Regions from separate parts of the Homo sapiens genome. Here regions 2 and 3 are each linked to region 1. The links come from fine-mapping of genetic effects on gene expression. A gene starts in region 1. Each other region holds a variant in brackets. All regions are shown on one strand. Distances are between the middles of the regions. Region 1 holds the start of CEBPB (CCAAT enhancer binding protein beta). Region 2 overlaps PELATON (plaque enriched lncRNA in atherosclerotic and inflammatory bowel macrophage regulation). Region 3 has its middle 19 kb from the start of LINC01271.

The links.
Region 2: its variant is fine-mapped to the expression of CEBPB in whole blood (TOPMed, PIP above 0.99).
Region 3: its variant is fine-mapped to the expression of CEBPB in whole blood (INTERVAL, PIP 0.95).

Annotation. Positions count from the first base shown.
Region 1 is chr20:50,186,337-50,194,509 of GRCh38, forward strand. It overlaps CEBPB (CCAAT enhancer binding protein beta), which reads left to right and starts at 4,494. Exons shown (of 1, transcript NM_005194.4): 1 at 4,494-6,332. The coding sequence starts at 4,698. The coding sequence ends at 5,735. CEBPB-AS1 (CEBPB antisense RNA 1) reads right to left here and starts at 5,733. Exons shown (of 7, transcript NR_125739.1): 1 at 5,328-5,733; 2 at 4,932-5,086; 3 at 3,662-3,949; 4 at 3,120-3,225; 5 at 2,207-2,291; 6 at 677-791; 7 at 1-84. RefSeq lists enhancers at 259-348, 7,201-7,762 and silencers at 4,027-4,436, 4,396-4,690, 4,517-4,726, 4,867-5,306, 5,727-5,836.
Region 2 is chr20:50,272,109-50,280,281 of GRCh38, forward strand. It overlaps PELATON (plaque enriched lncRNA in atherosclerotic and inflammatory bowel macrophage regulation), which reads left to right. Exons shown (of 4, transcript NR_170992.1): 2 at 3,543-3,627; 3 at 5,383-5,505; 4 at 6,069-7,680. Among named protein-coding and RNA genes, the nearest start is that of PELATON, 8.7 kb to the left of the region's middle. RefSeq lists enhancers at 2,518-3,019, 3,020-3,519, 5,364-5,901, 6,904-7,198. The variant G/A (reference allele first, on the strand shown) is at 4,297.
Region 3 is chr20:50,336,407-50,344,579 of GRCh38, forward strand. No RefSeq gene overlaps it. Among named protein-coding and RNA genes, the nearest start is that of LINC01271, 19 kb to the left of the region's middle. RefSeq lists an enhancer at 2,708-2,907. The variant A/G (reference allele first, on the strand shown) is at 4,011.

The DNA of each region.
Region 1 (8,173 bases):
ACCGGCCTTTCCTGATCCCAGAGCAAGGGCGCCCAGCGGATCTTCACGCATGTGAATGGCTCCTGCAGTCCCAGAACCTGCCACCTGGGGGCAGTATATACTCAGGCAAGTTTCACTACCGGTCCTGAGCACCTCCCGTCTCCAAAATCCTGGATCTCAGAACCTCGGAGCCTGGCAGCCCTTGGGGATCTATCTCTGCCAGCCCCACTTGGCAGATGGGGAAACTGAGGCCTCAGAGAGGAGGCATGATGGGGAAAATCTCAAACATTGGAATCAGGGAATCTGGCTTTTAAGTCTGGCTCTTGTACCCATTCACAAGGGTACAAGGGGGATTTGGAGGGGGAAGTAGGAAGTTCTAATCCTCTTCGGGCCTCAGTTTCCCCATCTGCCTGCTTTGTGGGGTGAAAGGGACATCTGATTAACTCTAATGTGTCGGGGAAGGCCAGCAGTGAGGGGTAACAGCAGGCCCAGAATCCCAGATAGAATATTATCACCTCATTTTATATACCAGGGACTGAGGCCCAGAGGGGACACCAGACACGGCCGGAGAGCCACAGCATGGAAGGCACAGGGCAGCATGAAAGGCCATCCCCCTGCCATCCCCCTGCCCCACGCCCACTAGAGACACCCCCCCATTCATGTTCTGATGGTTCACCTCTCCGCCATATTTTCCCACCTGCTGGCTGATTTCTAAGCCCTTTTGCAGAACACTCTCTGTCAAAGCAGCCACGTGGATCTCCCCTTGGCAAATCGCCTCAGTTTTCTCCTCTTGAAAATGGGATAGGGAAAAGCTGCAGAGATGGGGAGGAGGAATTGTGAAAAGCAGTTTGGGGGCAGAGGAGGACGTGTGTCCCAGGTAGGAAAGTGCCTGTTCCCTCCCCGCCCCCGCCTGGCTCCTGCCCACCACCATGTGGCCACGTGGGCCCAGCCCACAGCTTCAGGTTTTAAAAGAGGAGCTGGAAATTTGAATTTTGATGTGAAATCTCCTGATTTTTAAATGTTGGCAATAAATTCACTTAAACACACACACATCAAGCAAAACGCTATGGGGTCAAATTGAACACATCTGTGGTCTCGATTTGGCCACTGGCTGCCAGTTTGAGATCCTTTCCGGCTCTAGGTTCTGAGGGCAGGTGACTGGGAGAGGTGGCGCCAGGGGGATCCTGGTTTCCTGTGCCCACACAGCCACTCACGTACTCTGGGCCTCTGGGCCGTGGTGGTTCAAGCTCCCACCATCCCCACTTCTTGGGGAAAGGCTGAACAGTACTGGGGTGGGGGTGGGGGAGCAGCAGGCGGGGCCTGTTGAGCAAGAGCCTTGTAAAAACAAGGGCTTACGTCATCCTAGCTTGCAGCTTCCCTGCAGGACACCTGGGTCGGCACCGGGGTGGGACCTGCGCTGAGAAGGGATGGGTCATCCCCAGCAGGGGGTGGAGGGTGGGGAAGGGTGGCAAGCATGTTCCACCCCAGAGGCCAGAGGGCCTAGACCCCTGCTGGGGCTGAGTCTGGTCTTTGGGGGCTGGCCTGCAAGGTCCGAGTAACACCTTAACGCACTGTGTGACCCCAGGTCTACCCTTCTCTGTGCCTCAGTTCTTCTATCCAGAAGATGGGACTCACATTGCCAGGCCTGTTATGACAAACCCAAGAGGGAAAGTCAGACTGGAAAGATTTTATTCCTTCTCATCCTTTCATGTGACCTGGAGCAGACACACTTAGCTCTTCTGGGCCTCAGTTTCCTCATCTATAAAGTGGAGATAATGATAAGACTGTGGCCTGGCGCAGCGGCTCACACCTGTAATCTCAGCACTTTGGGAGGCTGAGGCAAGAGGGCCACTTGAGGCCAGGCGTTCGAGAAAAGCCTGAGCAACAGAGTGAGACATATCCATCTCTACAAAACATTGAAAAATATGAAAAAAGAAGAAGAAAAAAGACCTGCCTCCTACAAATTATCAGTAGGATTAAATGAGTTAATACATGCAAAGAGCTTGGAATGTGGTTCAGAGAAGGTGGAAGTTTGGCCTAAGAACACACAGCAAATCCTCCAATTAGCTTCAGTTCCCCCATATCTCCCTGCATCTCTTCAGAATCCAGAAAGGGAACGTGGGCGAGTGCTTTGGTTCAGAGAGGGGAGCCATTTTGCCTAAGGTCACACAGCCCAGCTAACGAGGAACCTCTCCTTCTTCTCAGCCTCCTCCATTTATTCACTCACCATTCATCGAGCACCTTCTATGTACCAGGCTCTGTTCTAGGCACCAGGGACACAGTAGTGAAGGCCGTGGGGACAGACAGCAAGACTGGCAGGCAAGATAATTCTGATTATAATGAGAATGGTGACGGAAATGAAGCAGGGGTGTGAGAGGAGTGACTGAGGGCCTAGACTTCCCATGGGAAGGTCAGGGAGGGTTTCCCGGAGGAGGCAGCTTTTGGGCTGAGACCTGAGGAGCTGCCTTGGGCAGAGGTGGGGTGACAGTGTTCTTGGTGCACAGGGAACAGCAAATGCATTCCTTCACTGGTAAATGTTGAGCGTGCTGTGCTCAGGAGTCCCTCGTGGGCCAGCCCTCCCCAAGTGGCAGCCTGCAGGGAGACTGAGGTAGACAGCTAGGATAATGGTGGCTGGCGATAGGGAAGGAAATTCACTAGCAGGTGGGACAGGGAGGGCCTCTCAGAAGCCGTGGCCTCTAGCTCAGCCCTGAGTGTCCCATTTTGCAGTGAGGAAGGGCTGGCCGGGTGGCCCTAGGGAAGCTGCCGCACCCCTCTGGGCCTTGATCCCTCCCCAACCCAGAGGCTGCTGGGAAGACCCAGAAAGCCAGCAGGCTGGGCCAGTGTTTTATCCCCTCCCTCCCTGCCTCCTACCCACCAAGGGTGCCCAGAGATGTCATTTCTCCAGCTCTTGGGGGCGGAGGTCACCCCAGCTCAGCAGATAACACCAAAGGTTGAGCAATGCCCGCCTGCCCGCTGGGGCCAGGGCTGGGGTCAGTGGGCTGGGGATCAGCCCCGGGCAGGCTGGGAGCTCCTGCCTAGGTGGCCTGGGCTAGGAGTGGCAGAGAGGTGGGCCCAGGGAGCTGCCCCAATGGCCTAGGAATGGGTCCGGGAGGGCAAAGGGCCCTCTAACCTGAGCCTACCCAGCAGAGGCGGGCAAGTGGTCAGAAGGCCTTGGGCCTGTGTTCAAGTCCAGGCGGGCCGTTGTCGCTTTCCCGTCTGTGAAATGGCAGCAGCAAAAGCATCTTCCTGGTGGGGTGAAAAAAGTTGAACCTCGGGGTGCAGGCCCACCGTAAGCACAGGGCAGGGACTTGGTAAAAACTTATCTTTCTCTTTCCTTCTCTTTCCTGCATACCACCCCCTCCCGTGAGGCCTCGCTTAAGTCCCTCCCTAGCAACTTCAGAAACAGAAGTTTTTGGCCTCTGGGACTGGCAATAGGTCTTAGGGCTCAGATGAGGGCATTTCATTTGGGATGAATGGGGGACATGCGGCCATGTGACCTTGGTATGCCACGCCATGCTCTCTCTGGGCCTCCACTGGCACAATCCGTGGGGGTCCCGTTCTCTCTGATGTGCAGCCCACAACGTAAGCCTTAGGTTTGGGAGTCTGGTGGGAACAATGCCACCACCACTGACAGTAGCGACACCCTTCATGGATTGCAGCTGGGAGAAGTGAAGTGACTCACCCAAGGTCACACAGTGTGGCAGGGCCGAGCACCCCCCGCCCCTGCCCCATCCCAGGGCCCAGGTCGGGTGGCGCAGCGCGGGGCAAGAGAAGACCCGGGCGTGTCCAAGCCTCGAGCAGGCGGCAGGTGTGGTGGGCGGGGCTAGGGGCGGGGCTCCGTGGACCAGGGTCCAGCCCCAAGCGGGGCGCGATCCTGCCCGGTCGCGCCGACCCCCGGGGTCCTCATATTGTCTGTGGCTTAAGAGGGGAGTCGTCACAGGCGTCAAGTCTTCTTTCTAAAGCCGGGGACCTGGGGAGGAGGTGGGAGTTTACGGGAGGAAGGGCCACGGAGATGGGTCGCTTCTCCTGGAGCTAGAGCTGCGGGCTGGGGTCTCCAGGGTTCGGCCCGGGGAGCCGACCCTGGTCGGCCGTCGGGGCTCTGCTCGGCCCTCCTGAAACCTCCGCCTCCTCCAGCAGGGGGCGGGCCGGGGCCGCGTCTCGGGGGGAAGGCGATCAGGTCGCCCCCTCCTCCGATTCCCCCGCCTTCCAGGACAGCCTCCAGCCCAGAGGGGCGGTCCGGGGGCGGGGTCGCACCGCCCCCTCTCGCTCCCAATCCCGGGGCGGCCGGGCGGGGGTGGGCAGGGGGCGTGAGGCCGCCCCTGCGTCCCGGGGGCCCCCCGAAAACGCGCTCCGGGTGCCCGGTCCCTCCGCTGCGCCCTGCCGCCGTCCTCCCGGGGGTCTCGGGCGGCCGCGGCCGTGTCCTTCGCGTCCCGGCGGCGCGGCGGGAGGGGCCGGCGTGACGCAGCGGTTGCTACGGGCCGCCCTTATAAATAACCGGGCTCAGGAGAAACTTTAGCGAGTCAGAGCCGCGCACGGGACTGGGAAGGGGACCCACCCGAGGGTCCAGCCACCAGCCCCCTCACTAATAGCGGCCACCCCGGCAGCGGCGGCAGCAGCAGCAGCGACGCAGCGGCGACAGCTCAGAGCAGGGAGGCCGCGCCACCTGCGGGCCGGCCGGAGCGGGCAGCCCCAGGCCCCCTCCCCGGGCACCCGCGTTCATGCAACGCCTGGTGGCCTGGGACCCAGCATGTCTCCCCCTGCCGCCGCCGCCGCCTGCCTTTAAATCCATGGAAGTGGCCAACTTCTACTACGAGGCGGACTGCTTGGCTGCTGCGTACGGCGGCAAGGCGGCCCCCGCGGCGCCCCCCGCGGCCAGACCCGGGCCGCGCCCCCCCGCCGGCGAGCTGGGCAGCATCGGCGACCACGAGCGCGCCATCGACTTCAGCCCGTACCTGGAGCCGCTGGGCGCGCCGCAGGCCCCGGCGCCCGCCACGGCCACGGACACCTTCGAGGCGGCTCCGCCCGCGCCCGCCCCCGCGCCCGCCTCCTCCGGGCAGCACCACGACTTCCTCTCCGACCTCTTCTCCGACGACTACGGGGGCAAGAACTGCAAGAAGCCGGCCGAGTACGGCTACGTGAGCCTGGGGCGCCTGGGGGCCGCCAAGGGCGCGCTGCACCCCGGCTGCTTCGCGCCCCTGCACCCACCGCCCCCGCCGCCGCCGCCGCCCGCCGAGCTCAAGGCGGAGCCGGGCTTCGAGCCCGCGGACTGCAAGCGGAAGGAGGAGGCCGGGGCGCCGGGCGGCGGCGCAGGCATGGCGGCGGGCTTCCCGTACGCGCTGCGCGCTTACCTCGGCTACCAGGCGGTGCCGAGCGGCAGCAGCGGGAGCCTCTCCACGTCCTCCTCGTCCAGCCCGCCCGGCACGCCGAGCCCCGCTGACGCCAAGGCGCCCCCGACCGCCTGCTACGCGGGGGCCGCGCCGGCGCCCTCGCAGGTCAAGAGCAAGGCCAAGAAGACCGTGGACAAGCACAGCGACGAGTACAAGATCCGGCGCGAGCGCAACAACATCGCCGTGCGCAAGAGCCGCGACAAGGCCAAGATGCGCAACCTGGAGACGCAGCACAAGGTCCTGGAGCTCACGGCCGAGAACGAGCGGCTGCAGAAGAAGGTGGAGCAGCTGTCGCGCGAGCTCAGCACCCTGCGGAACTTGTTCAAGCAGCTGCCCGAGCCCCTGCTCGCCTCCTCCGGCCACTGCTAGCGCGGCCCCCGCGCGCGTCCCCCTGCCGGCCGGGGCTGAGACTCCGGGGAGCGCCCGCGCCCGCGCCCTCGCCCCCGCCCCCGGCGGCGCCGGCAAAACTTTGGCACTGGGGCACTTGGCAGCGCGGGGAGCCCGTCGGTAATTTTAATATTTTATTATATATATATATCTATATTTTTGTCCAAACCAACCGCACATGCAGATGGGGCTCCCGCCCGTGGTGTTATTTAAAGAAGAAACGTCTATGTGTACAGATGAATGATAAACTCTCTGCTTCTCCCTCTGCCCCTCTCCAGGCGCCGGCGGGCGGGCCGGTTTCGAAGTTGATGCAATCGGTTTAAACATGGCTGAACGCGTGTGTACACGGGACTGACGCAACCCACGTGTAACTGTCAGCCGGGCCCTGAGTAATCGCTTAAAGATGTTCCTACGGGCTTGTTGCTGTTGATGTTTTGTTTTGTTTTGTTTTTTGGTCTTTTTTTGTATTATAAAAAATAATCTATTTCTATGAGAAAAGAGGCGTCTGTATATTTTGGGAATCTTTTCCGTTTCAAGCATTAAGAACACTTTTAATAAACTTTTTTTTGAGAATGGTTACAAAGCCTTTTGGGGGCAGTAATTGGCTTTTGTTTTTTATTTTTTTACTTTATTTTGGATTTGTAGGATTTTGTTTTTGCGTTTCTGGTGTGTAGGGGGTTGTGTGTGGGGGGCTGCTGTTATTTTTGGAGGTTTTGGTGGTTGGGTGGGGGTGTTGCAGCTGGTTTTTCTGCCTCCTCTGCTACTCCCCCTCCCACACACACAGGGTCTGCTTGAGATGGGGTTCCAGCCCCGGGGGAAAGGGGAGAAGAGTAATGGGTCAGGCATTCAGGCTGACTCAGAGCCCCTAGGCGCCGGGACGGGTGGCTGGGAACCCTGCTTGAGAAGAGATTCCGGAGCCTCTGGCTGGTCCCGAGTGTCAGGCTTGGGTTTGGAAGGGCTGGGAGGTCTGTGACCCCTGCCCTGTGTTTGGGGACTAGGTAGGCAGGCCTGTGACTGTAGGAGGAGGGGGTTCAGGTCTTGGTCCTGCTGAGCCCGAGTCAGGGCAGATGCTTTTGGTCAGTGTAGTGGGGTGGGTTGTTTAAAACACAGTTTGTGTATACATGTGTATTTTAAAGAGGGGAGCCTGGGTGTGTGGGCGAGTCTGTGTTTGTGTGTCCCTGGCCAGCAGGAGGGGAGAGGCCAGGCCAGGTGGAGAGAGGTGGGGGAGGGGTTCCCACACTTTGATTACCTTTCCTGAGGATGGGAGGCTCATCACTTGCTCTCTTTGCCCAGACTTGGACACTGAGCCCACCTCACCTGCCTGCTCAAGGTGGCTGAGCCCAGGCACAAACGTGGGGCTGCTAGCCCTGATTCCCTGGGACAGGCTCCTCTTCCCTGCCCACTGATCCCTTTGCCCCTTCCGGCTTCTCACCGCACCCCCTACTCCCATCCAGCCCTGGATGGCATTCCTGAGAGTTGAGGATGTAGATGGATGTGAGTGGATACATGTACAGCGTCCCACAGTGCCTGGCACGCAAGAAGTGTTATATAAGCGCTTGCTCTTGTTATTATTTTTTGCTGGGAAGCTGCTGGCATTTGGCACCCCAGTCTCCAGTGCAGCGCCAGTGTGGCCAGTACTTGCCAGGGGCCGGCATCTGGTAAACACTGGACCTGCCCCATCCCATTTAGACCTCACAATAACCTTTGGGAAGGTGGGGATTGTTATGACGCCTGTTTTTAGAGGTGGGGAGCAGCTTTGGGCTGTCCGATCCCTATGGGCAAGACACTGGTTGGGGGTTGCCCTGCCCTGAGGAATTCAGGGGCAGCAGGCATCGTAGCCTGGTTTGCCAAGGACCTGGGGCGGTCTGGGATCTCAGGAGCAGTTGCTGATACCGTGGTTCGCGAATGGGAAATGCTTTGCCCCTCCTTTTCCTTTTGGGGGCCTGGTTGTGCTTTCCCTGTGGGAGCCTGGGATGTGGGGAACAGACAGCGACACTCATCCCCCACCGCCACAAAGCGGAGGATTCCTATAAGCTCCACCTCCCTAATGCCAGTGTCTCCTGATGGTGGCTCGAGGGCTATGCAGATTGCTGGACACAGATAACCTCACTTCAACCTGGGACCTGCAGCGTGGCCCTGACCACGTCCCCTCCCAGCCCTGGGCAACTGGACAACTGGCCGGGCATGCCTTCAAAGCCTCGAAGTCAGTTCAGTCCCAAGCCCCACTGGTCTCGATGGTTTCTGTCAGTAGCAGCGACAGCAATGTGGGCTTGACCTCAAGGATTTACTTGCTGAAGGCAGAGGCTGAGGGGCTGGACCTAGGGAAGGAGGGAGGTGGAGAGGGTCGAAATTGAGGAACAAATCTCAAATCCCTGCTCCCTCCTTTGTCACCAAGAGTTGGCTGGTGGCCACTGCTCACC
Region 2 (8,173 bases), 86 kb after region 1:
ACTTGTCAGATGGGGAAACTGAGTCTGTGAGATGTTCTCATGGCCCCACCCACTTCCTTCTGCTCAGAGAAAAGAGGAACGGGGAACTGATGCCCCTGGTCAGCTGGGAAGAGTCTGGGCAGGGAATGGGGAGGGTGGGGCCCTCGGGGGCCTGCATTCGGGATGGGCAGGGGCCCTGCTTCCGTTTAACCACAGCCCTGTGACATGCCCCAAAAGGGAAGCAGCAGCCGCCTGTCCTCACCCCTCCGTGCCCTAGGGAGGGGGCTGGGGATGCCCAGGGGTGGGGAGCAGGAGTCTGGGGAGGCCTCACCCTCCCACCCCAGGCCTCGAGTCTGGGTTCTTACAGAACTCTGGGGTCAGCTGAACCCAGCTGGTGACCTCCATCAAGTCCCAAGAAGACCTTGGCTTCCTATTCTGTAAATGGAGGATCAGTCTCTCTGGAATGTTCTCAGATTAGCACACAGTGGGTCCTCACTGAATGGCTAGCCAGCAGTTGTTGGTTGAATAAGCTAAAAGTGTTTTTCTCCCTGAAAGGAGTAGCCAATTAGATAAGGAACCCATGTATATGACATTCCACAAATATTTATTGAGCACCTATTAGATTTCAGGCATTGTCCTGGTACTGTGGAGCAATGAACAAACAAGACAAAAATGCCCCCGTCACCTTTGGAGCCCACATCTCTTTGGAGCTGCCCTGCCTTTCCTGGTTTGTGGCAGACATCACTAATTGATCATCTTTCCTGCTGCAACCAGAATTCTCTCCAACACCGTGCACCACTCAGAGACTGACATATGGTGGGGAACAGCCTGTCATCCCCAGGGAGGGATGGCACGTGGGGACTTGGAAGGTCTCAGTGAGAATCTTCTAGCTGATTTAAGCAGCTTCCTCTCAGTCTCTTTCAACAAATATTTATTGAGCACCTACTTTGTGTCCAGTACTGTGCCAGGCATTGGGGATACAGCAGTGACCAGGGTGGACATTACCCTTACCCTCGTGGAGCTGATGTTCTGGTGAGAAAGACAAGTAAACAAATAAGCAGACACTTCCAGACACAGATACTACAAACACATGCCAGAGGCATATGGTGGAGGGTGACAGGGAAGGAGTCTGGGGTAGGTTGGGGTTGGGGGTTCTGGAGGGAGGGTATTTATTGAGACCTCACTGAGATGCAGCCACCAAAGGAAAATATGGGGGAAGGTGTCACAGGCAGCACAGCAAAGGCATAGGCCCGGAGTGGGGAATGAGGTTGATAGATTTAAGGGACAGGAAGGAAATAGTGTTGCTGGCGGGGCATGAATGTAGGGGAGAGAAGCAGGAGAGGGTGGTGGAGACCAGGCTGGGGCCATACATCCAGGGCTCGGGGCCAGGGGTGGGCTCTGAATCACATCTCCAATGGGATGGGCAGTCACTGGAGGGTCAAAGCAGGGAAGAGACTTGGGCGGGATCCCATTTCAGATCCCTCTGGCTGTGTGAAGCAGGGACACCCAGCCGGAGATGGCCGCAGATGTCCAGGCGAGCGAGGATGGCAACTTGGACGGGGGCGATGCCAGTGAATGTGGGGAGAGATGGCCAGGCCTGGCGGGAGGCCCAGGGCTCTGCATTCAGTTTCATTTTTCCTTTTACACAATCCCCCCCGGCCCCGGGCACTCTGGGTCACTGGACTTTCCCTGGCACTGCCGGTGGGGCCCACAACCTGCTGGCAATCTGGCCTCTCCGAGTCCCAGCTGGTTCCCTGCCCTGTCCTGGACCCTTCCTCTCCAGGAACAGGCCCAGCTCCAGTTCCTCTGTCACTGTTTCCCACCACCTCCTGCCCCAGGTCTGCCTGGGCCCTGCTGATCTCCTAATTCTGCCTCTGCTCCAGCACCCCCTGCTCCAGCCCTGCTGGCTGCCTGGGAGCCGGCAGATGCTTCCTCTGAGCTGCCTTTTCCAGATCAAGTTTGCATCCAAGGAAGCGAGCCTGAGACTCCCAGCCAGCTGGGGGAGACAAGTTCGAGGGAAGTACCCCAAGGTAGCTTGCCAGAGGGCAGCCTCGCTCTTGGGCAGATTTTTCCTCTGGTCCAGTTTGTTGTTGGATGGAGCAGGCAGATCTACCTTCCCCACTGACTCAGGCCTTGGGTGCTCGGATGGAGACTGTGGCCGAAGAGCTGTGTTGAGCAGGGCTCTGAGGCTGCATCTATGATACTAGGAAGGAGACTCATTATTGATTAGTGATGCCTGCTGTGGACCCAGGATGGAGGATAGGGGCCACGCTGGCCTCATAGGTGTGTCTGCGGCACCCAGTAGGTCCTCAGGTCTGCACTCCCCTGTTGTACCTCTAAATCTTCAAGTATAACAAATGCTGTTTGAAAATACCTTATGATGGTGGGCCGAGGTGGGAGGATCGCTTGAGGCCGGGAGTTCCAGACCAGGCTGGGCAACAGAGTGAGAACCCATCTCTAGAGGGGAAAAAAAAAGAACTAGCTGAGTGTAGTGGTGCACGCCTGTAGTCCCAGTTACTTGAGAGGCTGAGGTGGGAGAATTGCTTGAGCCCAGGAGATTGAGGCTGAAGTGGGCTATGACTGTGCCACTCCACTCCAGCCTGGGCAACAGGGCAAGACCCCCCATCTGTCTTAAAAAAAAAAAAAGGAGAAAAAGAGAGAGAGAAAATACCCCATGGCCTTGGTTTCCTTATCTGTGAAATGGGGATGATGATGACAAGCCCCCAGAGGGCTTCCCCGCACCCTGGCAGTGACTGACACAGAGGCCCTGAGAGCTGCGTGTTCCAGAGTCATGCAGCTGGTACATGGCCGAGCTGGTGGGGTTTGAACCCTGGGTGCCTGAGTCAGGGAGAACAGGCGGAACAGTTGGGCCAGGGAGGGGAAGGTGCTGCCCAGAGCTCCCAGTGACCTTGGACCCCACTTCTCCTTTCTGCCCAGTGTGCTCGGCACACAGGAAGCCTGGCGGGGCCTCCCTTGCCCATCCTGTCTGCAGCCGGGTGGACACGGGGTCCCGGCGTCACCCACCGCCACCCAGGCCTCCTCCTTCCTGTGTTGTGCAAGACGAGGCGTCCCCTGTGTGGAATGGGCAGGCAGCTCTGGCGATGGGTGGACGGGTGAATGGGGGCCTCTCAGGCGGGGTCACTGCCCGCGGTTACCTCTAGCAGGCCTGGCCTAAGCCTCCGCCCCTTCCTCCTCCTTCTCCTCCTCCTCTGTTTCCCCAAAGTTCAGGCAGCCTTAAGCAAGAGGCTGTGGGACCCAGGAAACTGGGGAGGTTGTCCAGCCACCATCTTGTCCCCACAGAGCAGACCTAGGCTTGCGCAGTCTTGGAGAGGTCCTAAACAACAACAACAACAAAACTATAATAATAATGATAATAGCTGTTATAGTGGAGTGGCTTCTATGCACCAGGCATGCTCTCATTTAACCACAAATACATAAAACGCACCTCCTATGTGCCACGTGTGATTCTCAGACCTTTACCTCATGTCCCATCGAATCCCCGGCAACCCTTGTGAAACAGTTTTTTTTTTGTTTTTTTTTAATGATTCCTTTCTTCAGAGTAGAAAACTGAGGCTCTGAGAGATGAAGCTACTTGCCAAGGTCACGCAGCACAGTCACATCCTACTGAACATCATCCTGTTCTCTGGGGTGAGTGCTGTCCTGGAAGTTGGGGGGCTCAGAAGCTGTTGGTGCCCACCTGGGAGGTCGCCCTTGCAGCTGCTATCCTGAATCTCTTGCCCAAGGGCTTCCTCTGGCCACAAGAGTGTGGGAAGCAAGTGAGAGACCCCTGCCAGTAGAGGTGGGGTCTGTTTGTCCCCCCACTCAGCTTCCTTGCTTCTGGCTCAGGGGACAGTGGGAAGGTACTTTCTGCGAGTTGTCCCAGAGGCCTCTAGGGGGTTGGGCTCCTGTTGCCCACTGAGGAGACCTGCTCATCTACCTTCCTTGTGTCACTTCCTCACTCCTTCCCAGTGTTTCTAGAATCACCTCCCAAATATCCCACTTGCACCCAAAACCTTGTCTTGGGTCAGCTTCTGGGAGCCGACCTAAGCCAGCAGCTATAATGCTCAGGGCTTAAGAGCTTTGGAATCAGATGGACCTGAGTGTGAATCCCGCCCCTGCCACTTAACCTGAGTGTGAACTTGGGAGCCTGCCCCACCTCTCGGAACCTCAGTTCCTCCATCTATGAAAAGGGAACTTACGTGCAGAAAACCAAGTGACTATGAGGGGGATGGGGCAGTGTGAGATGACGGGACCAGAGCACGTTCCTGGCTGCAGAGGCCACAAGTCACGCTGTCTCTGAGAGGTATGGGGACAGGG[G/A]CGCAGAGGAAGAATGATCGCGAGTCCTCAGCCCTGTTTGGCTGACGGGGGACAGGGATGGGTGGGAAAGAGGTACAGCGTTTTTCCACCTTCCCCACCCATCACCCCTGAGATTCCAAATGAACATCGGGACCAACCCCGGGAGCCCAGCGGATGTTCAGGGTAGGGCAAAGAACAGGTGCCAAGTTTGCTCCCTGGGGTGTGAGACTGGGCAGCCTCAAGAGCTGCATTGGTAGGACTTTCACCAGGTAGACAGCAGGCACCTCGCCCCTGCAGATCACAGCTTCCAGGGCCACCTGTCCACAGAATCCCTTCACTGATCTGTGCTTGAGGCAGGGGTGTGTGGACTGGGAGTCCTTCTTTTACTCTGGGTGGGGCCTCATGCTCAGAGGGAGCTCTGTCTACCCCCACCACAAACCTGCAGTTTCCCTGCTACAGCGATGGCAACCTCAGCCACCTGGCTGCCCAGGCCCCCAACCTGGGTTCTCCCTCTTGTTCCCATGGTCAGCCCATCAGCAAACTCATCCACATGTCCAAGGGTCCACCCCCACTACCCTGCCCTGCCCTGGTCCAGCTAGGATGTTTGCAGTCGTCTCCTCATTGGTCTCCCTGCCTCCTCTCTCGCCTTCCTAAGCCAGAGGAATTCTGTAAGAGCTCAAGTTAGATCCTATCCCTTCTCTGCTCAGAACCCTCTATGGCTCCCAACTCACTCAGAGCAGAAGCCCACAGGGCCTGCAGGATCTCTGCCCTGGCCCCGCCTGACCTCACTGCCTCTCCCTTCTCTGTTCACCCACAGCCACGGTGGCCTCATCTCTCTGCCATAAACTTGCCAATTATCCTGCTGCTGCCTCATTGACTTCGCACCCACTCTTCCCTCTGGAACAGAGGACACTCTCGCCAGCTCTCCCCATGGCGGATCCTTGTCTAGGGTCAGGCCTCTGCTCCAAAGTCACCCCTGGGGACACCTTCTCTGACCAGCCCCTCATTCCTATGGCCTCATGCTGTTTTTATTTCTTCCTAGGACTTAGCACGTATCCTAGAAATTAACCTGCTGGTATATCCTGTTTCTTGTCTGTCTCTTTCCAGTGGAATGTCACCATCGCCCAGGTGGGGATTTTTGTGTGTTTTGTTCACTGCTGTACACCCAGCCCCCAGCACAGCGCCTGTCCAGGACAAGTGCCCAGTAAACACTTGGGAAGCAATGCAAGCGTGCGTGCATGGATAAGTATTTCTTTGGCAGATGAGGGGGCTAAGGTTCAGAGAAGGCCCTGGGGGTCTCAGACTCATAGCCCAGTGCTCTTTCTGCTGACACGCCCTGGTCTCTGGGGCAGTTTGTTGCCTGTTCAGCAACAAAGAGGGTGTGCCTCGTTAGGGGTCCTGCGTGCGAATCGCAGTCCCTGCGTGTCTTGGCTGGAGGTCACCACCCTCTCTGCTCCAGGGCCTGTAATTACCACTTACCCTGGTCAATGGGTCCGAGAGATTACCCTTGTAGGCAGGGCTGTGGCCAGGGTGCTCACCTGGCCCCCAGCAGGTCCCATGGGCACTGTCTGGCCGGGCTTCATGGCTGACATTCCAGGTACATTTCTAGCCCTGGGCTGCCATGGGCAGAGGGTGGGGAGAGGGTCGTGGGCTTCAGGCTGGACAAACCAGTCAGCCTTCCCAGCTGGGCCGCCTGACCACCCACTTCCTGTGGGGCTCCTTGAGGCCTGGAGGGTGGAGGGGGTCTCTGTTCAACCCCCACCCATGCCCTCTTCCCTTCTCTCCCTCGGCAGGTCCTCCCAGCAGCTCCTGCAAACAGACCCCCGACCCAAGCCCTTCCTTCTGCCTCCACTGCCACCACTGCTGCTCATCTCTGCTGGCACAGAAGTCTCTTCCCTGGTCTTCCAGAAATCCCCTCTCCACACTCAGCCAGAGGGAGCTATTAAAACTGTGGGCCAGCCCACATCAGTCCACAGCAAAGTCCTCTCTAAGGGATCTCTGTTGCTTGGAGAATAAACCCTCGGATTCCTTCCTTGGCTCTCGGGGCCTCCTCTCTGACCTCCCTCTGTCTCCTCTCCCAGCCTTCCTCCTCACTCACCCTCCAGCCATGCTGGCTTCCTCCTTGCTCCTGAAACAGCCTGAGGCCCACACTGCCCCGGGCCCTTTGCACTGGCTGTTTCCTCTGCCTGGAACACTTCTCCTAGGCATCCACAGGGCTCCCTCCCACAACTCCTTCGGGTGCCCACATGGGAAGCCATCCCTGACCACCCCCCCGACTTCCTTCTGAGCAAGGTAGGGTCTTTCTACCTAGTCATGAGGGCAGGGATTTTTGTCTGTTGTGTTCTCTGTGTGCCCCCAGTGCCATCCCAGTGCCTGGCAGATGGTAAGTGCTCGACACACATTGGCTGACTGCCTGAATGAACAACTCTATGAGCCGATGGCAGATAAGGACACTGAGGTCCTCTGGGGTAGGTGACCAGCCCAAGGCCACACAGCTGGTCTGAGATTAGGCCAGGAGAGGAGCCCGGGTTGGTCACATCCTGGAGTTGGCGTCTTGGAAACTGCATCAGGAGAATAACAAAGATGAGACGCAGGCTCTAACAAGTGGATACCAGTGACTCTCGCCCCGCCAGCCCCAGCCCTGCAGCCTTGGGCCCTTCCAGGAGTCATGGTCTGCCTGCCTGGGGCATTCCAGGCTTCGACCCAGGTCCTGCACTTTCTATTTTGAGCCTCTTAGTCCTGAGGACTGTGTGTTCCCAGCAGGCGGCGCGGGCCAGAGGCTGAGCCTGGGTGTGGCTGTCACCCTATCTGGGGCCAGAGACCCAGATTCCCGGGCCCTTAACCTGTTGGCTGCTGAGGGCTCTGGCATAAGCCCTGTTCCCTGCTTGATTGTCTCCCCTTCAAGCCCCTGCCCTGGTATCGTATCGGCCCATCTCACCTTGGATTATATCCCTGTTTGGCCCCATTTGAATCCTGGCTCTGCCCCTTTCCAGCAATGTGACCTTGGGCAAGTCACTTCATCTCTCTGGGTCTCAGTTTCTTCATCTGGGAAATGGGGACAATAAGAGTACCTGTCTCTGGCCATGTGTGGTGACTCATGCCTGTAACCCCAGCGCTTTGGGAAGCCGAGGCGAGAGAATTGCTTGAGACCAGGAGTTTGAGATCAGCCCTGGGCAACATAGTGAGACCCCTGTCTCTACAAAATTCTAAAAAAATTAGCCGGGTGTGGTGGTGTGTGCCTGTAGTCCCAGCTATTCTAGAGGCTGAGGCGGGAGGATTGCTTGAGCCCAGGAGTTTGAGGCTGCAGTGAGCTATGATTATGCCCCTGCACATCAGCCTGGGTGATAGATTGAGGCCCCATCTCTAAAAATAACAATACTAATAATAAATAAAAATGAAAATGAGTACCTGTCTTCTGGGGTTGCAGAGGAGATTCAATGTGATGAAATTGATGAGAGTGCCCTGCAGGGAGCCGGAAACTCAGGGAGCATCGATAATGAGTCCCCCACCATCAGCAGCTGGCTTAAATATAAAAACTGTCATGGCCTCTGGAGAAATGACAAGAATTCGAAGGAGCTTCCCTGCACTGGCCACCCTACACCCTACACCCTTACTTCCTCCCCTCAACTTGCCTGGATTTATCGACCCCCACTACCCCACTGGTTGCCTTCTCTCCACCTGGCACATTTCGTATGAATTTGCTTGTTGGTTCTTGCCTATCTCCCCAGTAGAACATTAGCTCCTTCAGGACAGGGACTTTTGTCTACCTTATGCACCTAGTGCAATGCCTGGCACACAGTCGGTGCTTAATAAATGTTTCTTAAAAGAACCAATAAATGAATAGTGACCTCTCCGGGGAGAGGAGCCCTGAGCTCACCTCCTGCCCCCAGCCCAGGGC
Region 3 (8,173 bases), 150 kb after region 1:
AAAGGAAAAAAATTGATAAATCGGACCTCATCAAAGTTGAAAACTTTTAACCCATGAGAGGCCCAATTAAGAGGAGGAAAAGACAAGCTACAGATTAGGAGAATATATTTGCAAACTGCATATCTGACAAAGAACTAGTACCTAGAATTCTTAAAACTTGACGGAATTCTCGAGAACTCTCAAAAGTCAGCAGTTAAAAAAATCCAAATAGAAAATGAGCAAAAGACACAAACAAATATTTCACTGAAAAGAACATGCAGATGGAAATAAACACATGAAAAAATGTTCAACATCATTAGCCATTAGGGAAATGCAAATTAAGGCCACAATCGGATATTGCTACACACCTATCAGAATGACCAAAATAAAAAACGATGGGAACTTTCGCATTCAATCACTGGTGAGGAATGGAGACACTAGAACACTCATACATTCCTGATGGGAATGTAAAACGGTACCGTATTCTGGAAAACAGTTTTTTAAAAACTGCCTTATGACTTGGCAGTTGCAATCCTGGACATAAAAATGAAAACTTATGTTTGTGCAAAAACTTATGCTCAAATCTTCATAGCAGCTCTCTTCATAATAGGCAAAAACTGGTAAACCACCCGGAAGCCTGTCTATGGTTTTTTTTAACTAAAAAAAGCTGTGTTATATCCATACTATGGACTGCTACTTGCAATACAAAGGAATAAAATATTGATAACACACAATTTGAATAAATCTTCAGAGAATTATGCTGAGTGAAAAAAACCAGTCCTCAAAGGTTACATAAACTATATGATTCCATTTATGTAACATTCTTGAAACCACACAATTATAGAAATGGAGAACAGATTAGTGGTTGCCATGGCTCGGGGGCAGGGTTGGGGGTGGGAGATGGGTTTGGTTATACAAGGGCAATGAGGGATCCTCGTGGTGATAGAAATGTCTGTATCTTGACTATATCACTGTCAATATCTTTATTGTGACTGTTAACATTGGGGGAAACTGGAAAGGGTATATGGACTCTCTCTGTTTATTTCTTACAACTGCATGTAAATCTATAATAATCTCAAAAGAATACATTTTAAAAAGAATATATTATACAATTTTCTATACCCAGACACTACTAAATATAATTATATCTTTGGTAACACAGACACACTGTTCTCAGATAACGGAAGTAGTGCGGTGATTATGTGTGTGACTTGACAATGGGATGGGCTGGGTTCAAATCTCAGCTACCAGTCCCTTCACCTCCTTGGGCCTCAGTTTCCACACCTGCAGGTGCTGAGCAATGAGAGGAACTGTCTCGTGGGGTTGCTGGGGGGACACGATGACGTGATTCATGAGACATGCAGAGCACAATGCTCACTTGCAGTGGCTGCCCAGTAAATGAAATTGCCACTTTTCCGGGCTGTAGAAAAGGCTACAGGTAGAGGCAGGCAGAGGATTGGACCCGAGAGCATCCTCTGAGAGCTCTAGATTGGGATCATGTCTCACCAGCCAGGGGGTTTGTTTTGACTTCTTTCTTGCAGGGAAGTGTCTGCTGAGTGGTCCATTCCACTCCCCTGAGTTTGGCCTGGTCGCTTCTTGTCTGCCCTCTGGACCCCGGTGGGTGCAAACTTTCATGGGTGTCTCTCCACCTGGAGCCTGTGGTTGGGACTGCTCAGGTGGGGACACAGCCTGGGGGGTGATCCTCTGTAAGGCAAAATGGAGCAGGAGTGGAACCCATGCCTACTGCATACCTATTGTGTGCCTTGTGACTTACGTGCTGCAGCTCACGGAATTCTCCCAACAACTTTGAGCAGTAGGTGCTATAATCACTCCTGCGTGATCCAGAGAAAACCGAGACTTGGTGAGGGGAATGGACTTGTCCAAGGTTGTGCAACTAGTAGGTGGCAGAGCTGAGATCTGAGCCCTGGTCTGTCTGATTTAAATCCAGAATCATTTTCACTGTTGATAATAACCTCACCACTTATTAAGTATCTACTAGAGTAATCAATATGCTAGCTCTTTCCATTGAGGTATGATCACCTTTCCATTTTAGAGAAGAGGAAATAGGGGTTAGGCAAGGTGCATTGCCAAGATGGACAACAGCTCTCAAAAAACAGCCAACCTTGCAGCCAACGGGCAGCTTTCTTGTGTGCCCCCAACCCCACCTGTAGCTCCAGCCCAGCTCAGCCAAGATCACTCAAGCTTTGGGACTTTTAAATGCTGAGTCAGCAAACAGCCCCTACCTTGAGATACTCTGCCTAGGCAGACTGTGGTTGTTTGCACTTCAGCTTCAGGCCTCCAGGGTCAGCTGAGATAGCAAGACCTTCCCCTGGGGGCTGGATGGGGTCATTGGGAGCCACTGAGAGACCCTTTCCCCACTTGGCCTGGCAGACAGAGTGGCAGTTGGAAGAGGCTCGAGGTGGCTGTGGTGGTAACAACTTCCTTTTGAGTAATAACATTTACTGAAAAGCAATTCTGCTTTTAGCACCAGAAGTTCACCATCCTTGCAAGCAGGCGCCTAAGAATACCTTCATTCAACCACAGTTCAGAGATTCACAGACTTCCTTTTGCACTCCCTCCAGGAGAGTTTCACATTTGGTGTTGAGGGAAAACCAAATACCACAATTATTGGAGGGGGTGGGAGGGGTGTTGAGAGGGAGGTGATGCGAAGGAGGCCAGGTGGCATCAACCACAGCCCCCAAGGCCTCACAGGCAGCCTCTGGGCAGCGGCTCAGCCTCTCGCCCTCAGTTACTGGAAAGACAGCGGACGAGCTCATAATGAAACCGACAGGCTGACAATTTATCTTCCTTTTACAAGAAAAAGAAAGTGATTGTCCTTCAAACAAGCATGACTTTGGAAGCCAGGGACTTACCCTGGCCACTCTGCAAATTAGAGACAGAGCCAGGCTGCTCCAGAGGCCCCGAGCCCCTGCCTGTCACCCCCAATTAGCGCTGGAGTTCTTTAGGCTCGTTTTTTCTATTGCCCAAAATCCAGTCTACTGGGGCATAATGGGGACTTATGGAAAGAAAAAAATCCAATCTGCACTTGGGAGGGGATAGCCTTAAATGTTAGGCACTCACCGCAGGCAGCTGGGGGTGGCTGAGGGCAAGGGAGAAGGCATGGGTGGGGAAGGAGGGGATGTGCCAGGCAGAGCCAGGAGGCTCCAAAAAGCAGCTCTAAAAAGCTCTCCCCCTCCCAGCAATCCAGCCTCCTGACTCACGCCAGACACAGAGGCAGCTGATGGGATGGGAAGAGGCTGGCTTTGGGAGCCACAGGGATGTGGGGGCAAACTCCAGCTCTGCCACTTGCTGGCTGTGTGACCTTGGGTGGGTAACTTCACCTCTCTGAGACTCAGTTTCCTCACCTTTAAGATGAGGATGAGTATAGGAGGTCAGGACATGACCTTCCTGTGCTCAAAACCCTCCCACGGCTCCCACCTCACTTGGCAGAAAGTCAAAGATCTCTGTGGCCTACCAGGCCCTACAAGATCTTTCCCATGCTTCCCTTATAACCTCATCTCTCTCTCTCTGTCTCTTTTTTTTTTTTTTTTTTTAAGACAGGGTCTCACTTTGTCACCCAGGCTGGAGTGCAGTGGTGCCAACACATCTCACTACAGCCTCAACCTCCTGGGCTCAAGTCATCCTCTCACCTCAGCCTCCCAGATAGGTAGGACTACAGACACATGCCTCCACGGCCAGCTAATTTTTGTATTTTTTGTAGTAGAGATGGGGTTTTGCCATGTTGCCCAGGCTGGTCTCGAACTCCTGAGCTCAAGTGATCTGCCCACCTTGGCCTTCCAAAGTGCTTGGGATTACAGGTGTGAGTCACCGCGCCTGGCCCATCTCCTCTTACTCACTCTCTCTGGTTCCCTCTACCCCTGCCACACTGGGCTCCTCTTTGTTCCTCCAACATGCTAAGCACACGCCTACCTCGGGGCTTTTGCACACACTGTTTCCGCTGCCTTCAGCATCCTTCCTCCAGATAGCCACAGGGCTTCTTCCCTCTCCTGATCTGGGTGTCTGCTTAAATG[A/G]CCCCGGGGGTCCTGCTCTGACCCCCGGCCCTTCCAAATTGCTCCCCTGGCCTTACCTCTTCACCCTGCGTGAATGTTTTCCCATAACACTGACCACTACTTGACACAATAATTTAGGGGGTTCATAACTCCCCATTGGCCAGACTGTAAGCTCCCAGCAGGCAGAGGCCAGTTCTCCACTGTCCTCCATTAAATCTCAGAGCCTGGCACATAGGGGGCACTCATCCAGCATTGAATGAACAGATGCAGGGTTTTGTGGTGAGAAGGGAAGAAGGACGTGTGTGGCGGGTTCAGCACCAGCCCAGGGTGCGTGCTCACTGTCACTTCTTCTCTCCTCTGCCCAGCACCAGCCCCATGTCATGTGCTTGTTGAATTCCTACAATGGAAGGATGCATTTTACAGATGCAGGAATGAGACCACAGAGCCCAAGCGACTGTCTCAGCCCGCAGCGGGGCAAGGCTTTGAATTCTGGTCTGCGGGTCTCTTGGCCTCCAGGACAATGGTGACAGTGTCCAGTCTGACTTGGGGTCTGGGTGAGAGAAATGGCTGGTGGGGCCATCAGACTCTTGAGAAGAGGCCCTGGCTTTGAGGATCTCCAGCCGACATCTGGGCTTAGGACTGGGGTTCACGCCCCGTCCTCCTGTCCCACAGTCCCACATTCTGCCCCAAAGCAGAATGCAAGCCCCATCAAGGAGGCTCAGGGTTTCCAGAGAGGGGCTTCCTCAACTTTCTGTTGCTGGAAAGTTCTGTCCCAGAAAGGGCAGACGCTTGAGGAGCTCCTGGATCCGGCAGAAGGCTCTGAGACTAGGAGACCCCTGGTGTCCTCGCTCCCCGGCACCCCGCCAGTTCTCGAATACAAGGGACTTTCCAGAGAAGTCAGCCTCCTGGCTGCCTCCAAGCCTGCCCAGGCCTGCAGGCCCAGGTCTCCATGAAGCTCAGTCCTGCCTCGGTTTCCCTGTTTTTAATTTCTTGGAGAGGCCAAGGAGTTTGGAGGTGAACAGCCTCATACGAGCACTAATTTCCCCTAGGCCTGGGGCATAGGAATTTTGGAGCCATAAACAGGCTTCTCACAGCCCCCATGATGAGTCCTCCCCACACTCCATCCACCCTGGACTCTGGGCTGAGCTGGGCAAGGAGCTGGTCTGGGGTGGGCTGGGTGTTGCCTGTGGGTGCGGCTCAGAGCTGGGGGCGCTACCTCTGCCCTTCTGTCCCCCATCAGAGCTGCCCCAGCTGTATGAGAACCCCTCCCACAATGGCTACAACAGAGGGCACGCAAGTGAGACGCCAGGAAGAACTGCTTCAGCTTCGTTATCCTCAAAGGTGTTCGTACCCATCAAGCCTCCTAGAGCAGACCTCCATGACAGCTGCCCATGGGACAGGTCCACTCTGGAGATATGTTTAGTTTGGTCCTTAAAGTATTTTTTTTTAATGTGAATCAATTGCCAACATCTGACATGCCAGGAGATTTCACATAAAGTCCTTTTCTCTGGCTTCTCTTGAAAAATGGGAAGATGTGGCCATACTGGGCCCACATTCCTACTGGACACAGGAGGCCTGGGAGTGGGGTTGCGGGAGGCCCTTTCTTAGTGGCACATAGTAGGTACTTTCCTGTTCACCCAGTCCCTGCATGCCCCACTTTCCTCATATCATTTCCTTGCCAGGGTCTTGAAGTATGAGTAGGAGTGCGCCAGAAAAGGGCAGTGGAAAAGCGTTCCAGCAAAGGGGAACAGCGTGAGTCGGTGAGATGCATCTGTTCAAGATTCACTCGACAAATATGTATTGATACTTACTGTATACACAGGGACATACAGCAAGAAACCAAACAAATCAAAATCTCTGCCCTCTGGTTCTCAGCTAGAGGTGGTTTTGTTCCCCATGGGACACTTGGTTATGTCTGGAGATGTGTGTGGTTGTCACAGCTGGGTGGAGGGAGGGTGCTATCAGCATCTAGTGGGGAGAGGCCAAGGAGGCTGCTGAACCAATCCTACAAAGCCCAGGGCAGCCTTCAGGTGCAGAATGATCTGGCCCCAAATGTCAGTCAAGCCAAGGTCGAGGGACCCTGGTCCGGGGGCACAGACACCAAATAGGACAAGCCAATGAACTCAAACCGTGAAGCCAGCAGCTGATGAGCACTTTCGGATTAAATGAGCCGGAGCATGGTGAGAGGGATGCAGAGGGGTGTGGCTGCTCAAACAGGTGCCGTCTGCACAGGGGCAGGTCCTGAAAAGATTGTGGCACTGCTGGCAGGGTGGCCCTGGCATTGTAGGTGTTCACTGAGTGGCACTTTCTTTTTTCCACCCTGCCTAATCTTCATGACGTCCTTGCTGTGGAGCAGGGATCTGTGTTCCTGACCGGGCATCGCAAGCCGTTAAGAGGCTGACCCAGGGCTCCTGACCACTCAGTCAGTGTCCTTGTGCTGCCTGGAGGTAGTGATGGTCTCTGAATTGCCTCCTGTCATTCAGTCAGTCAACAAACATCTAACAGGAGCCCATTGGGGCATAGGGGGAGGGAGCAACTTAGGGTGAACTGCTCAGCTTACAACATGTGGTAGGTACGCAGGAAAGACTGGTGAAAGGAATGAAAAGAAAGAATAAGTGAATAAGCAAGCCTCAGGCCATTAAGACAATGATCATGGCCAGCATTGATTGAGTGCCTACTGTGTGGCAGGCTCATCCTAAACCCTCCATGTGAGAGTCTTACAGAAGGAACACCTCTGAAAGGGGGGCCAACGACCATCCCCACTTTCAAGGTGAGAAGACTGAGGGGAAGAGAGGTGATGTCAACTGCCCGAGGCCTAGCAAGAGAATGGCAAGGCTGTCGCCGGAGCCTGGGCCTACCAGATCCCAGGGTGCACCTGCTGCCTCAGTGTTGTGTATGCTGTGGCTCAAATCGTTATGCCACCGGCCCTGTGAGGGAGGTGCTAGCATTATCCCATGTTACAGATGAGGAAACCAAGTCTCAGAGACAGGAAGTGACTTGCCCAAGGTCACACGGCATGTGTGTTTGAATCTAGATTTCACGTTTTCAGCCACCAAACCCTGCCCCTCGTAAGCCCTGGCCGCTCTGTGAGGAGGATGCGTAAGTCCCAAGGGGTTGGGGAGGGAAAGTGGGCCAGGGAGCTAAGCCCTCCAGGGTCTGCAGGACCAGGCAGGAGGCTCTGAAGGAGGCAGGGTCCCTGGTGGGCAGATGGGAGCAGGTGGGCCTGGGGAGCCGCCAGCCTTCCGCCCCCACGTGCAGGCATGCCCGCCAGGAGGGCCTGTGGAGAGGCCGCCCCGCGGTGTGTGCCAGGCTGACAATGGCTCCTTGTGTCTGTGCCGACGGTGGGAGAGGGGAGGTATTGTTTGCCAGGACACCTTCCCGCCAAGGCTGGCTGCAGGCGGTCCTTGTCCTAGGACGCTTGGCACGGGGCTGTTCCGGGCGCCAGAGGGAAGTGTGTGTGTGCATGTGTGTGGCTGGGTGTTCTGGGCCACGTTGGTGCTGGCTGCGGCTCCCTGGGTGTGCCTGTGCACGTGTGTGTGGGGTGAGGGCATGTGTGTCTATCTGAGTGTGCCCATGCACGTCTTGCACACCCATGGCCAGTGTGTCTGAATAGTCTTGTGGCTTGGGGCTTCCATGTGTCTCCCTGGGCGTGGCTGTGGCTGTGACTTTACGTCTGGCACCGTGTGTCTCTCTGTACCTCTGGACCACGTGTGGCTCTGAGCACCTTTGGTTTGCGTGCCCATGTATGTCTCAGCCTGTCCCTCTGCTTGTGTCTCCATCTCCCTCGGGGTCTGTCTGTGGAGCATCTTGATCCCAAGGGGGCAAGAAAGCCTCTGTTTCAGAGTGCGGGCTGAGTTCCATTCGTGGCTGATAGGTGAGGGAGGGGGCTTCAGGCAGAGGGAATGGTGGGTGCCCAAGCTGGGGGGCAGGATGGAGTTGGCAGATCTGCAAGAGCAGCCAGGAGGCTGGGTGGCCGCAGTGAAGTGAGTGGAGGTGAGAGGACACCAGGGGCCACCTGCAGGCCAGAGTCCAAAGTGAGGGGCAGCCATCAGAGGATCTGGATGGGACCATGACATGGTCTGTTTCATGGCAACGCCTTTGGCTGCAGGTGAAAAATGGGTTGTAGGGCAAGCCTGAGAGGTGTTGGGAGTCGCTGTGGCCAGTGTTAGGAAGCAGTTCCACAG